2 linked regions of the Homo sapiens genome follow. The protein of the gene in region 1 interacts with the protein of each later gene in a pairwise test. Each region holds a gene or a part of one and is shown in the gene's direction. Other genes may lie near its edges.

Region 1 (7,027 bases):
GGCATTGGATTAGAAGATGGCATTACAGGGTGTGAATGAAGTTCTTAACAAAAAGCGAATAGTCTGCGATTTATCTGTAGATACATGGCCACAGAGCTGAGTCATCCTAGAGCAAACCTCTGGAGTGGAGAGCGAACTACTTCATTCCCCTCCCTTAGCCTGGGCCAGAGAGACTCCAGCTCTGCCTTCTCCAGCCAAAAAATCAAAGGCAGATGGGAGAACAGCCTTCAGCTTTGGATAACGATGAAATATCTGGCACCACTGATGAATATTAAACTTTCTATAACCAAAACATCATTTCTAAGAGTTTTAAGAATCTGGCCAGACATTGTTGATGTGTTTGGCCTTCTGATCAGTGTGAAACACAGAGCTGTCATTAGGGGGAGAAAACATCCTCCAATTCTCTGGTATTCGTATGGGTTTTCTGGATGATTTATACGCTCGTCCCTTCCAGGTTACTAACCCTCAAGATGTGGGAAGTTTGTGTTCTGAGCCAGGAGAGCTGGCGAGACAGACTCCCCCAGCAAGAATTTAAGCAGGGGAGAGAGAATTATTATTCTAAATCTCTGTCTGCATGTTCTTGCCAAGCAAGGAGGAAAAAAACAAAACAAAAAAAAAACAAAAAAAAACCGTGTGGATGTCATAAACCTTGGTGGTGTAGTTTGAGTTTCTGGTGAGGGAGGTTCTTACTTGGATGGACTTACTGACCCTTGTTTTTACTGTAATGTAGGAGAAGGACATGTTTTTGTCTGGGGCTATGGAATTCTTGGGAAAGGTCCAAACCTAGTGGAAAGTGCCGTCCCTGAAATGATTCCACCCACTCTCTTTGGCTTGACGGAGTTCAACCCAGAAATCCAGGTTTCCCGCATCCGATGTGGACTCAGCCACTTTGCTGCACTGACCAGTAAGTTACCAAGCCCGGTGGCCCTGGTGTGAGCCCAGCAGAGGTTCTCTGTCTCCAGTTCAACCCCAAACTGCGGGCAGCTCTCAGGTTCCACCCATCCAACAGAACGGCGCCTTTGTACTGATAACTCAAGCAAGGGCTAAGCCAGAAGTTGTTTGCCTCGAGGTTGTATAATGTCTTGTTTTCCCCCCCTGGAGTTTTAATTTTGGTTCGTTTGGTTTGTGGGTAGGCTAACGTGAACGTGCATTTTCTCAAGAGAGCACCCGTCGGTGGTAGGAAGGGGCATTGCTAGTACGTCGGGTGCTGGAGGAAACCAGCAGAGGCTTGGCGGATCCATGGGTGGGTGATTAGGAAGTGAATGTGTGGGGCTTAATCCCATTCCCTGGCCGAGCCCAGACCCTGATCTGACCCAGGATATGGGATGGCAAAAGGCCGATTTGTCAGACTGTCCCGTGGTTTCACGGAGGTAAATCTACCGATTTCTCCAAAGTGCCGGGGTAGAGAATGATGAAAGGGGAGAGCAAAATGGAGGTTTTTCCCAAAGGCCTGCCAGATTACAAAGCCACAGAATATCCGCTTACCCTGCAGGGTAAGGGTAAGGAATGTGTCCTTTTCTTGGTTACATCTCTTACTCCACCACAGTTACCGTGGGTTCAATTTGCTGCTCTTTAGTTGACTCGAATAGTAAAACTGTCCTGAATTAATTTCATTCTGTGATTCTCAAGTAAATTAGTTATTTCCTTGCAATTAAAAGAATCTTTTCATCTCATGGCAAGTAATTGTTTTCTTTTTAAACATCCAGGCCGGGACAGTCAGTTGGTGTCATCTTTGGTTGAGTTCTCTGGCCTCATTCCCACGTGGGGCCTGTCCCAGATGCTCACCCTCTGTACCAGGGTCCTAACTGCTATTCACTTATTGTCTGAATTCCAGGCTCCAGAGGCCGTCAAACAGGCAGGCCTGGGTTGTTATGGCTGCCAGCTGGAGTTTTATCTGGCTCTAGGCTGAAGCACTGAAGTGGCAGTGGTCATGACTAAGCCAGAGAATTCCTGGCCACTGCCCAGCCAGAGTGGCCACTTGCATTTGCAGCTGAGTGTAGGTCTCATGAATTCTTTTTTTTTGAGTTGGAGTCTCACTCTTGTTGCCCAGGCTGGAGTGCAATGGCGCGATCTTGGCTCACTGCAACCTCCGCCTCCCGAGTTCAAACGATTCTCCTGCCTCAGCCTCCCAAGTAGCTGGGATTACAGGCACACACCACCACGCCCGGCTAATTCAGTGTCATGAATTCTTAAAGCTATTTTGATTTGATAAATAAGAGTCGTATGGACTAATTTTGGGGGAAACAAATATCTACTTTCCAGAAAGTTCTTAAGGCCTCAACTATGGGCAGAGACACATGTTTAGAAATCTGTGTGAAGCATTTGACTAGAGCAGAGGCTTTTCTATTTGCCCTCATGCCATGTAGCCATTTCAGGTCACAGCGAAATGAAATTCCTTTCTGGATTTCTCCCCGAGACTTAACAGGCCTCCTTCTAAGGGTGAGTTACTGCCTGTTGGTAGACAGAGCCTAGCTGTCTTCCTGCCTGTGTGCCTGGCATTTGCAGATAGCCATCTGGGAATTAGAGTTGGTTGGTTTATCCTGTGGTCTGCTAGCATTTTGGGGAGCCAGGCCGAATTGTTCTATTAAACACCTAAGGGCTAGCTGGGTGCAGTGGCTCATGCTTGTAATCCCAGCACTTTGGGAGGCCAAGATGAGAGGATCCCTCAAAGCCCAGGAGTTCGAGACTAGCCTAGGCAACATAGTGAGATCCCTTTTCTACAAAAAATACAGAAATTAGCTGGGTGTGGTGGTGTGCGCCTGTAGTCCCAGCTACTCTGGAGGCTGAGGTGGAAGGACTGCTTGAGTTTGAGAGTTCAAGGCTGCAGTGAGCTATGTTTGTGCCACTGCGTCGCAGCCTGGGCAGCAGAGTGAGACCCTGTCTCAAAAGCAAACAAACACACACACACAAAAACTATCTAAGGTCTGAGTGTGGAGAACAAGGGGCATGCTTAGATCAGGGGCCTAAGACAGCTTGTAATTATTCCGTACTTCATCAGCCCCAGGTCTTGTAGTCCTGGCTTTTCCATGTCACTTCCTCTGCCTCCCATGACCCAAGCCTTTTGCCCAACAGCTGATGGTGACATGGGCCCAGGAGTGCCCCAGCTGGTGCAGACAGAGTCCCACCTGAAGGCCGGGCTAGGAGAGGCCATCTCCTGGGTTGACCTCTTAAACAGCATCTTGTACTTTTTCTTCATGACAGTTTTTACAGTTTGTAAACATATATTAAAATCATCTGTCTGTTCCGTCTCTGGCCAGTCCCCAGCTCCTGGAACACAGACCTAGACCCAGCACAAGCAGGCACTTGGTCATTAGATGCCCTGTGGCTGAATGCTCCCAAGATATGGACAATCAATCCAGGAATGACAAATTGTCTTACTTTTCACTGTCAAATCAGGAAGCCCAGGGTGTCGCCAGGATTTGTGGAAGGCAGAGTTTGGTGGCACACGATTGTGGGCGGGGCACAAGGGGTGAGCAGAGTGGGCCGTGTGCATCAGTGACCTCCAGCCCCGTGCACCACCCCCAGACCCCAGCTCCATGCACCACCCCCAGACCTGTCCACCACCCCCAGACCCCAACTCCATGCACTACCCCCAGCCCTGTCCACCACCCCCAGACCCCAGCTCCATGCACCACCCCCAGCCCTGTCCACCACCCCCAGACCCCAGCTCCATGCACCACCCCCAGCCCCGTGCACCACCCCCAGACCCCAGCTCCATGCATCACCCCCAGCCCCGTGCACTGCCCCCTGCCCCATCTTCATTTGAGTGCTCATCTCCCACGTGGGTGGATGCAGCAGAAGTCCTGGCCGTGGATGTGTTTTCGATATGGGGACAGCATCTCAGACCCTTACTTTTGCCTTCAAAGAAAGCATGAACGCCTGGTAAAAGCTGAACAGTGGGCTCTGTAGGTATCTGGTTCTAGAAAGCCTGTTCTCATGACCCATCCTCTCCTTGGAGACTTGTTCTTCACACAGTCCCAACCAACCCCTGTTTTCCTCCCTTTGCAGACAAAGGAGAGCTGTTTGTATGGGGCAAGAACATCCGAGGGTGCCTGGGAATCGGTCGCCTGGAGGACCAGTATTTCCCATGGAGGGTAAGGCTGGCCGGGGAGGTCTTGAGAATGGATGCTAAGAGTAGAGTCACCTGACGTCACTGCAGACACCTCGCGTGCAGATGGGCCAGGACGAGGGCCATGGGACCTGCTCCCCCTTCCGGGTCCTGGCTGCACTCCTGCAGCGCGGCATGCTATGTCATTGCACACTCTGTGGTGACACCCATGAGATACCCGTGGTGCATCTGCATGGTGTGATGCGTGGGGGAGTGACACCAGGCTTCTTGGGGTGCAGGAGCTGGGTCAACCCATCCCGGCCCACTGACTGGGAGGTTGGAGGGAGTAGCCCACTCAAGCATCCAGTCCTATAAGAAGCCCTGTCGGAGGCCATCCTTGGGGTGGATCGGGGAAACAGAGGCACGATGGTGCAAAGGCTCTGGTAGGGTGCCATGAGGCTCCGGAGAGGGGGAGATATTGGATGAAGTTGGCACGCTAGAAGCTGTTTACAGAAGCCCATGTGGGGGAATGCTTCACAATGAATTTAAAAGAAAGCAGGATGTTTAATATTTAGATGGCCCAACCGCAGCTATGAAGTGAAAAAATAAAGTCGCTTCCTTAGGGGCGGTAGTATGCAATTAGACAAAAAGGCTCCTTCCAGAATTACAGGGGAAGAGACGCTCATTCTAAAATTGTAGTTTACCTTAGTGTTGTTTACTAAGTCAGTTCTTTAAGGCATTCTAAAAAAGGAGGTTTTTGGGGTTTTTTGAACATGAAACATATGTTCATGGTACAAAAAAATGCACTATGGAAAATGAGTCTCCCACCACCCAGTTTTTGTTCCAGAGGCAGCCACTGGTCCTGATTTCTTTATGTTCCTTTCCAGAGATAGTCTCTGCATAGAGACTGGTGTGCATGCGTGCTTTGTGTGTGTGTGCCTGTGAGTACATACATGTGTGTGCAGTGTGCATATGGGTGTATTTTATCAGAAGGTTGGATTTTAATTTGTTTTGAAATTGTGAAAAGCGTTTTTAAAAAGGACTTGCACCAGGTGTGGTGTCTCACACCTGTAATCCCAGCGCTTGGGGAGGCCCAGGTGGGTGGATCACAAGGTCAGGAGTTCGAGACCAGTCTGACCAACATGATGAAACCCCATGTCTATTAAAAATACAAAAATTAGCCAGGCATGGTGGCACACGCCTGTAATCCCAGCTACTTGGGAGGCTGAGGCAGGAAATCACTTGAACCCGGGAGGCAGAGGTTGCAGTGAGCCAAGATCAGACGCTGCTGCACTCCAGCCTGGGCAACAGAGGGAGACTGTGTCTCAAAAAAAAACAAAGGACTTGCAAAAGAAATGTGTATATATATATGTGTGTATATATATATGTGTGTATATATATGTGTGTGTGTATATATATGTGTGTGTGTGTGTATATATGTGTGTATATATATATGTATGTATTTATATGTGTGTGTATATATGTGTGTATATATACACACACACATATAAATATATATACATATATAATACATTTATATTATACGTTTATATATATTAAATATATATATATATATATTTTTTCCAAGACTATCGGTGGAGGCTCTGAGAAAGCAAGTTGAAATGGAGACTTTAACTTTGTTTTTTTGTTTTTGCTTATTATGAGACAGGGTCTCACTTTTATCACTCAGGCTGGATTGCAGTGATGTGATCACAGCTCACTGCAGCCTTGACCTTCCTGGGCTCAGGTGATCCTCCCACCTCAGCCTCCTGAATAGCTGGGACCACAGGCGTACACCACCACACCTGACAAATTTTTTTATTTTTAGTAGAGATGGGAGTCTCACTATGTTGCCCAGGCTGGTCTCAAACTTCCGGCTTCAAGCAATCTGCCTCCCTCAGCTTCCCAAAGTGCTGGGATTACAGGCATGACCCATCACGCCCGGGCGACTTTAGCCTTGTTGGAAAGCTGTTTGTATAATAGAGTTGTTCCCAAGGTGGTGGGGCTTGCCGGCTTTCTCCTGAGCCTGGAAACTGCCGGTGTGAGGAACAGAGAGTCGGGCAGTGGGTGTGGCTCAGATAATGTGAGCATCAGTCATCTACATGCCCACTTGCTTTCTCACTGACTCCTCTCTTCTCTCACTTTGCCCTTTCTTTCGAAAAGGACTTCCTTCTGAGGGGGGAACTTGGGAAACAGTTAAAGCAGCCGGGTTTTGGGTGAAAGAACGCTGACGAGGGTCTGCCCCCCGCCCTCATTTCCTTCAAATCAGAGTGATCAGCCTGAGATTTGACTCAGGTCACGTTGCCCCTGCCATAAGGGCATGTGCAAAGCGCTGGTCCCTGTGCGGGCAGGGAGTGGCCGGAGCCCGATCCCGTTGACATTCCATCTGGGTCACTTGCCCTGGCTCGCCACACACCAAGTGTCCTTCTGGTCATTTGCTTTTTATTTTTATTTTTATTTTATTATTATTGTTTTGAGATGGAGTCTTGCTCTGTTGCCCAGGCTTGAGTGCAGTGGCATGATCTCAGCTCACTGAAACCTCCACCTTCCGGGTTCAAGTGATTCTCCTTCCTCAGCCTCCCTGGTAGCTGGGATTACAGGTGCATGCCACGACGCCTGGCTATCATTTGCTTTTTAAACACATTTGTGCCTTTGGGAAAAGAGCACCCCAGCCTGTCCCCGTGACGGCGGCATTTGGCGCCAAACCATTGTCCTTCCTCTTGCACATTCAGGGAGCCCCTAAGGGTTTGTGCACGGAGTGGCCTCGACCCCTGTCCTCTTTGGATTGGGGTGGGAGAGTCCAGTCCCTTCTGATGACTCACTTAAAAAAAAAATTACAAGTGATTTTTCTTTTCTTTGTTTTGTTTGTTTGTTCTTTTAGACAGGGTCTTGCTCTGTCACCCAAGCTGGAGTGTGGTGACAGGATCTCGGCTCACTGCAGCCTCTGTCTCCCAGGTTCAAGTGATCCTCCTATCTCAG
Region 2 (7,027 bases), on another chromosome or scaffold:
AGAACTTTGTATACCAAAGCCATTAGTCTCTACATCTTGCATTTCTGTGAGGCTGCAGTCTGCTCCATTTAAAGCAAATTTAAAATGGATTTGGGGATTTTTTGTTACCAGTGAGTGCCACTTCCCTTGTAGTCTTCTAATTTTTTCTTTTTCTGTCATTCCCTGCTTTCTTCCTCATTCACATACATACTCCCACATAATCTTATTATATATGCTACTTGCATTTTTAAGTGAACAAAACAGATTGTAATCATTTTGAGAAACAGGAGGCTTAAGAATAAAAGCTCTGCATGATGTTGAGGCAAATTTAAGTGTCAGGCATAAATGAAATACTGAAGTAGCTTGAATAAGTTTGGATATGCCATGTGAGTCTTAAGATTCTCAAGTAAGGTTTATTTTATAAACCACTAGTTCAGATCAACTATAGCTCTATAAAACACCTTAATGCCTTTTTTTTTTTTTTTTTTTTTGAGACCAAGTCTCGCTCTGTCCCTTAGGCTGAAGTGCAGTGGCACAATCTCGGCTAACTGCAAGCTCCACCTCCCAGGTTCACACCATTTTCCTGCCTCAGCCTCCTGAGTAGCTGGGACTACAGGCGCCCGCCACCACGCCCGGCTAATTTTTTGTATTTTTTTAGTAGAGACGGAGTTTCACCGTGTTAGCCTGACCTTGTGCTCCACCCGCCTCGGCCTCTCAAAGTGCTGGGATTACAGGCATGAGCCACCACGTCTGGCCCTTAATGCCCATTTTTAATGTGTATTCAGATTTTATATTATGAACCAGTTTTTAATGAAATGGACAGACATGAAAATTCAGTGGCAGGGTTCAACTAGATAACCTCCCATTTTATCTGCTTTTATTAATGTAGTCAGTTACTTTTTTGATTACCTTCAACAGTTGTGATCTCACATACTATACAGCATAATATTAAGTGTTCTTTGGACTGCTGTTCTCTAACTTTGTTGAGCATAAGAATTTCCTACAAAAGTATGTTAAAAGGCTGGCCAGGTAGAGGGACCTTGGGCAAAAAAAAAAAAGATCCTGGTTGCTCCGCCCCCAATTTTGATTTAGAAGTTATGTGATAAGACCCTGATTCTACATTTTTAACAGGTTGTCCAAGAGATTGTGAAGTTAGGGGATCCTCAGGGCATCAATTTACAGAATTAGGTGTTCATGTTCTCAGTGAAAAAATACATACATATATAAGAACAGTTCCTCAGCTTCATGCTATAAATATTGTTGAAGTGTAGTGTAGTGAGCAGGTGGGGATGATGATGAAAATAGCTATGCCATAGAATGATATTGAAAAGATCTTGTGTTTTTGAATATGTACTTCAGCAAATAGTGTTTTCGTTCACAGATAAGAATGTTTTCCTAAACTCCCAACCCTGCTCACTTCCTCAACTTCACCCCCATCTATTTTTTATCAGTCACCATCCTGTGTTTTTGTGGTTCATCATTGAACAGTCTGTTGTTATGCTGTTTCTAATTCAGAGACATTTCATAGATGTTTCCAAATAACTTTAGCTTGAAATTGATTATTTTTACAGACACAATTAAGAGCAGACCGCTTCATCTATATTATGTAAAATTTTTAAGTAAAAATTTGTGTTGGAAAAATTAGTATCACCTGTAAACCCTAACTAATAATTAACTTCATTGCTTTTGAATGCTGAAATACAAATGCCCAATTGTGCCAGACACACAGCAAATACTGGGGAAAGATGGGAATCTAAATATTTTAAATGAAACTTTCACCCTCTTCACTAACACCACTGATAAGCAACTCAGACTCTTCTTCTGTTTCTTTTTCTATCCTCTGTTCTCCTCTTTTTTTCTTTTTTTTTTTTTTCTTTTTTCTCTCTTTTGGGCAGTGGGAGACTCCTCTTTCACAAATTGGGAACAATGGGGCATAAGCAAATTGATACTTATTTCTGGAATCGTGGTGATGTCTATGGAGCAACTGCAACACAAATAACACACCTAAGGTACCCTACTCTGTACAGCCGAGATTCTTTCATTTTCAGCATTGAGATAAACACACTCTGTTCCTGAATGAAATAGAAAGGGTTTCTCTAGGGATTCCTGTGTTTTGCAAATTTGCCTGATTACAGAGAAGATGGGGGTGTAGAAGCAGTGGTGACAAGTCTGAGAATAGCTATTTTTATTTTTTAATACTATATTTAATGCCCAACATTTCTGCAAAATGCATTTCTACAAAAAACTGGACCTAGAATGTCTAATGAGGTGTTACTTTACATTTTTGTAACACCGATTTTGATCATTTAAGTCACTAATGCTTCTTAATTGACTATAAATTGATTAACCTCTCTTAAAATACTAATAAGTAGATCATGGGTTTTGGTATCTCATTTTATTAATTATTTGTGTGGTAATGACATAATATTTCCCTTGAACTATCTTTCCTTAATTGTATAATGTCAGTACTAATTTTAATTTCCCGTCTTGTGGCATTTACTCCAATACCTTCACAGGTTTGAGAGACTTTTGGGTTATGGAGAAGGGGAGATTTTTTGGGATTTTTAATTTTAATTTTCATTTTTATTTTTTTCAAGAAACTTGATAGAGTAGGAAAAATTGTGATTATGGTGTTGTCTAAATTCAAGTCTTGTCTTTGTCACTTAAATAGAACTTTATGGCACAGAACATTTCGCTTTATTTCTGGCCCTCAGTTCTTAAGAGTGACGGGTTCTAAGATCCTTTTATTGTTTTTGTAGCATTTCTTTGCTTCTTTTTGTTATGCTTGTTTAGACTTTTGTGTCTTTGTTTAGGGTTAGGTTGTACATAATTACTCCCTTATTTTAGAAGATATGGTGCTTGTCTAAACTAATTTGGCATTGCGCTGAATTATGTGTTCCCATTATGTTATAGTAGAACATGTAGCATGAGTACTCTGCCTTCTTAACAATGGTAAAACATGAAAACTTTCTTTTACAGAGAAGCATATGCAATTGGGAAGAAAGAGAAACCTCCCTTCTTACCAGAGGAGCCATCTTCTTCCTCAGAAGAAGATGATCCTATCCCAGATGAATTGTTGTGTCTCATCTGCAAGGATATTATGACTGATGCTGTTGTGATTCCCTGCTGTGGAAACAGTTACTGTGATGAATGTAAGAAGTGCTGAATCTTGGAAGATGTATATTTTAGAATATTTGTATTTACTTGGAATGGCTCTTCCCAACCTCATATGTTTTAATAATAAAATAAATAATGTTGATGACAAGTGTTGATCAATGAGCATTAAGTAGTGAGAAGTCTGTTTTTCTTGCTGTATCTTTTTTAAACAATAACCTGTTTGTCCTTTTAAATTCTAGAATTGACTTCTGTACCTTCATCAGGGTGACTATACTGAGGTGTTTTTCTTAATATAGACTTTTTGTTTCCTGTATGTTTTAAGTGGTATCCAGAATTTTAAAACTTTTTTGGGCCTTAGATAATTCTGGAAATATTTTTAAGTGGTATCTAAATCTTTTTCCTGGATTGTGAATAGCTTATCCTAATATTTCTAAGTGTATTAACACCTGATTCCTGTAGACAGTTTTTGTTTTTTTTTTTTTTTTTTGAGACAGAGTCTCACTGTCTCCCAGGCTGGAGTGCAGTGGTGTAATCTCGGCTCACTGCATCCTCTGCCTTCTGGCTTCACACAATTCTGCCTCAGCCTCCCAAGTAGCTGGGACTGCAGGTGCCCGCCACCACACCCGGCTAATGTTTTGTATTTTTAGTAGAGACGGGGTTTCACTGTGTTAGCCAGGATGGTCTCGATCTCCTGACCTCGTGATCCGCCCACCTCGGCCTCCCCAAGTGCTGGGATTACAGGCGTGAGCCACCGCGCCCGACATCTGTAGACATATTTATTACCCAGCATTTACCATGCAGTTGTGACTTTTTAAATCACTTATATTAGCACTTAGTTGTTTCCTGCCACTTATCCTAAGTTTGTGCCTTCTTACACAGAAGAAATCAGTGTTACCTGAAAATTTGCTCAAGCCTGCTCTGGCCTTTTTCATTTTTAAAGGTAGTTTTGAAATATACAGTCCTCATACACATGGTTCTGCATCTGCAGATTCAAAACCACAGATCATAAATATTTGGGGGCAAGAAAACAGTAAAAAATAATAGTAAAGACTAATACAGATTTTAAAATAAGAGTATAACAACTATTTACATAGCATTTATATTGCAGCAGGTATTACAAGCAATCTAGAGATTATTTAAAGTATACTGGAGGATGTACATAGTATTATATGCAAATACTATGCCTTTGGGGCAGTTGAGTGACTTGAGCATCTACAGACGTTATCTTCAGAGGGTTCTGGAACCCATCCCCTTTGGATACCTGTAAATCTTTATTTTTTGACCTCTTCAGTGAAGACCAAGGTCAAGAAGAGGTTGCTAAAGACTTGTTTCAGATTATATCTTAGATTTAACATACCACTTGGTATTACTGGAGTTTTACTACATTGAAGCTTAATCTTCGTATCTGTAATTTAGTGTTGCTCCCACGTACTGTGCTGTAGGTCTCTCATTTCCTTGCCTGAATAAAAACCCCAAGTTAGCCATGTAAAATTTTTGTCTTTCTAGACTATCTTATATTTCTCTTTTGTTTTCTACAATATTCCAGTTACTAGCTAAACAAAGAATAGTCTTTGAGAAAGAGTGCTTTTGCTCTCAATTCAGACATTTGTTTAAAAAAAAAAAAAGATGGGGTGGGGGATCCTTGCTATTTTGCCCCAGGCTAGCCTTGAACTTCTAGGCTCAAGTGATTCTCCTGTCCCAGCCTCCCCAGGAGTGGGGATTACAGGCACATGCCAGCACACCCAGCTGTGACTTCTTTTTAGCGTAGCATAGGTCATATAGAAAAGAGCAGAGGAGTACTGTAAGATGAGAGATTTTACTTAAGTTTCTTAATCTAAGAAATGATTAGCACGACATGCTTGGAAAACAGTAATGTAACTGAACAAATGTGGACCATCCTTTTAATTCATTTCGTAAACACTTTGAGTTCCTACTATGCTTTTATTAATATTTGAAATCTTATACATAGGTATAAGAACAGCACTCCTGGAATCAGATGAGCACACATGTCCGACGTGTCATCAAAATGATGTTTCTCCTGATGCTTTAATTGCCAATAAATTTTTACGACAGGTAACTGTCTGTATCCATTTTATGAAAAAATTCTTTTTAACTGATTTAACTGTACTTCAGTGAATACTGCATAACATTTTTCTGCATTATTATGCTTGGTATCTGTAGGCTGTAAATAACTTCAAAAATGAAACTGGCTATACAAAAAGACTACGAAAACAGTTACCTCCTCCACCACCCCCAATACCACCTCCGAGACCACTGATTCAGAGGAACCTACAACCTCTGATGAGATCTCCGATATCAAGACAACAAGATCCTCTTATGATTCCAGTGACATCTTCATCAACTCACCCAGCTCCGTCTATATCTTCATTAACTTCTAATCAGTCTTCCTTGGCCCCTCCTGTGTCTGGAAATCCGTCTTCTGCTCCAGCTCCTGTACCTGATATAACTGCAACAGTATCCATATCAGTTCATTCAGAAAAATCAGATGGACCTTTTCGGTAAGCCTGTGTGTTTTTCACTGTTAGAAACCAAATGAGGTCAATGATGTAGTGTTTTGTTGTTGGTTATCACTTTTAACAGCTTTCTTAGTGGACCACTGTGCTCAGTAATGTGGGATGACTTGTAAGAAGTGACTTAGTCTTATTGGGGGAAGAGGAAAACAAACGTGATTGATTTGGCAAATGAGGATTAAGCATCCTGAGGTCAAATACTACACAGGTTGCCAACCAGCCCCTATTAAACGTTGAATGTTCCATATACCATAACAGCTCTGAACTTAACAGAGGTGGGAGAATTCACTTGTGATCATAATGATAGTTTTGGATAGGAGTAGTTTTGAGTAGAACTAAGAACAGTTTAGATAGGTAGAGAAGAGGGGGTAAAAACACAGGTAAGTAGAGAAGTCAGGAATAGTGATTGTTTTGGAGCATAATTATTATGTAGGAGAATAGTGAAAACTCACAGCCTACCACTTCAGAAATGAGACTTTTGTCCATGTAGTTTAATGTCTCATAAATTCTTTAAAAAAAAAAAAAAAAGGTGTAAGAGGCCCATTTCAGACACACTGAAGCAAAATCTTTAGGATGAGACCTTTACATTTACATTTAAGAAATTCCACTGATCTGGTGGAATTTATTTGGTTGATAGTGGAAATAGGCCCAGAGAGTTCTATGGCTGACCCAAGATTATCCTTTCAGTTTAGTGGTAGAACTAGAGCTAAAACTTAACTCTTAATCCTAGGGGGATTTTTGTCTTCATAGGCCAGACTTTGATTTTAAGTTTTACTATTCTTGCAACTGATTTCTGTCATAACTGTAGTATCTTCTTAAGGAGGTCCTTCATTTTACTTTTCCACTTACTACATATAGAGAACTCTTCAAAGTTTCAGCCTTCTCTCACTTTCCTCAGAAGTATTCATCATCTTTGACTTAACTCATCTTAACTGCAGGTGATGGGTAAACAGCAGCAAACTTTTTTACTCTTAATTGTCCATTTCTGATAATTTTTAATGTATTATAATTTATGTTTTTTAAAGGGATTCTGATAATAAAATATTGCCAGCTGCAGCTCTTGCATCAGAGCACTCAAAGGGAACCTCCTCAATTGCAATTACCGCTCTTATGGAAGAGAAGGTAAATTTTACTGGTGCTTTAATTTGGGATTTTTTTTACAGCAGGGTTTTGTTTTTCTGGCTTTGTTCTTACCTCTTTTTTTTTTTTTTTTTTAACTATTTCTGTTTATTTGTGGTTGTTTCTAAAGGGTTACCAGGTGCCTGTTCTTGGAACCCCATCTTTGCTTGGACAGTCATTATTGCATGGACAGTTGATCCCCACAACTGGTGAGTAAGATCACTTTGGTTTAGACCTTTTTCCCTTTAAAAAATAATTTTAGCTTGATTTAATGTGCAATT

What was found. Proteins that work in one complex are often made in the same cells at the same time.
Region 2: the proteins of RCC1L (region 1) and RBBP6 interact in a two-hybrid assay, tested with the Homo sapiens proteins (one study listed by BioGRID and IntAct).

The regions. Positions count from the first base shown.
Region 1 is NC_000007.14:75,049,778-75,056,804, reverse strand, and holds part of RCC1L (RCC1-like G exchanging factor-like protein), read left to right. Parts: intron 1-80; coding exon of another isoform or gene 81-100; exon of another isoform or gene 101-292; intron 293-730; coding exon 731-904; intron 905-4,008; coding exon 4,009-4,094; intron 4,095-7,027. UniProt on the Homo sapiens protein: Guanine nucleotide exchange factor (GEF) for mitochondrial dynamin-related GTPase OPA1. Activates OPA1, by exchanging bound GDP for free GTP, and drives OPA1 and MFN1-dependent mitochondrial fusion. Plays an essential role in mitochondrial ribosome biogenesis.
Region 2 is NC_000016.10:24,556,547-24,563,573, forward strand, and holds part of RBBP6 (E3 ubiquitin-protein ligase RBBP6), read left to right. Parts: intron 1-2,958; coding exon 2,959-3,131; intron 3,132-5,065; coding exon 5,066-5,169; intron 5,170-5,277; coding exon 5,278-5,615; intron 5,616-6,652; coding exon 6,653-6,749; intron 6,750-6,876; coding exon 6,877-6,955; intron 6,956-7,027. UniProt on the Homo sapiens protein: E3 ubiquitin-protein ligase which promotes ubiquitination of YBX1, leading to its degradation by the proteasome.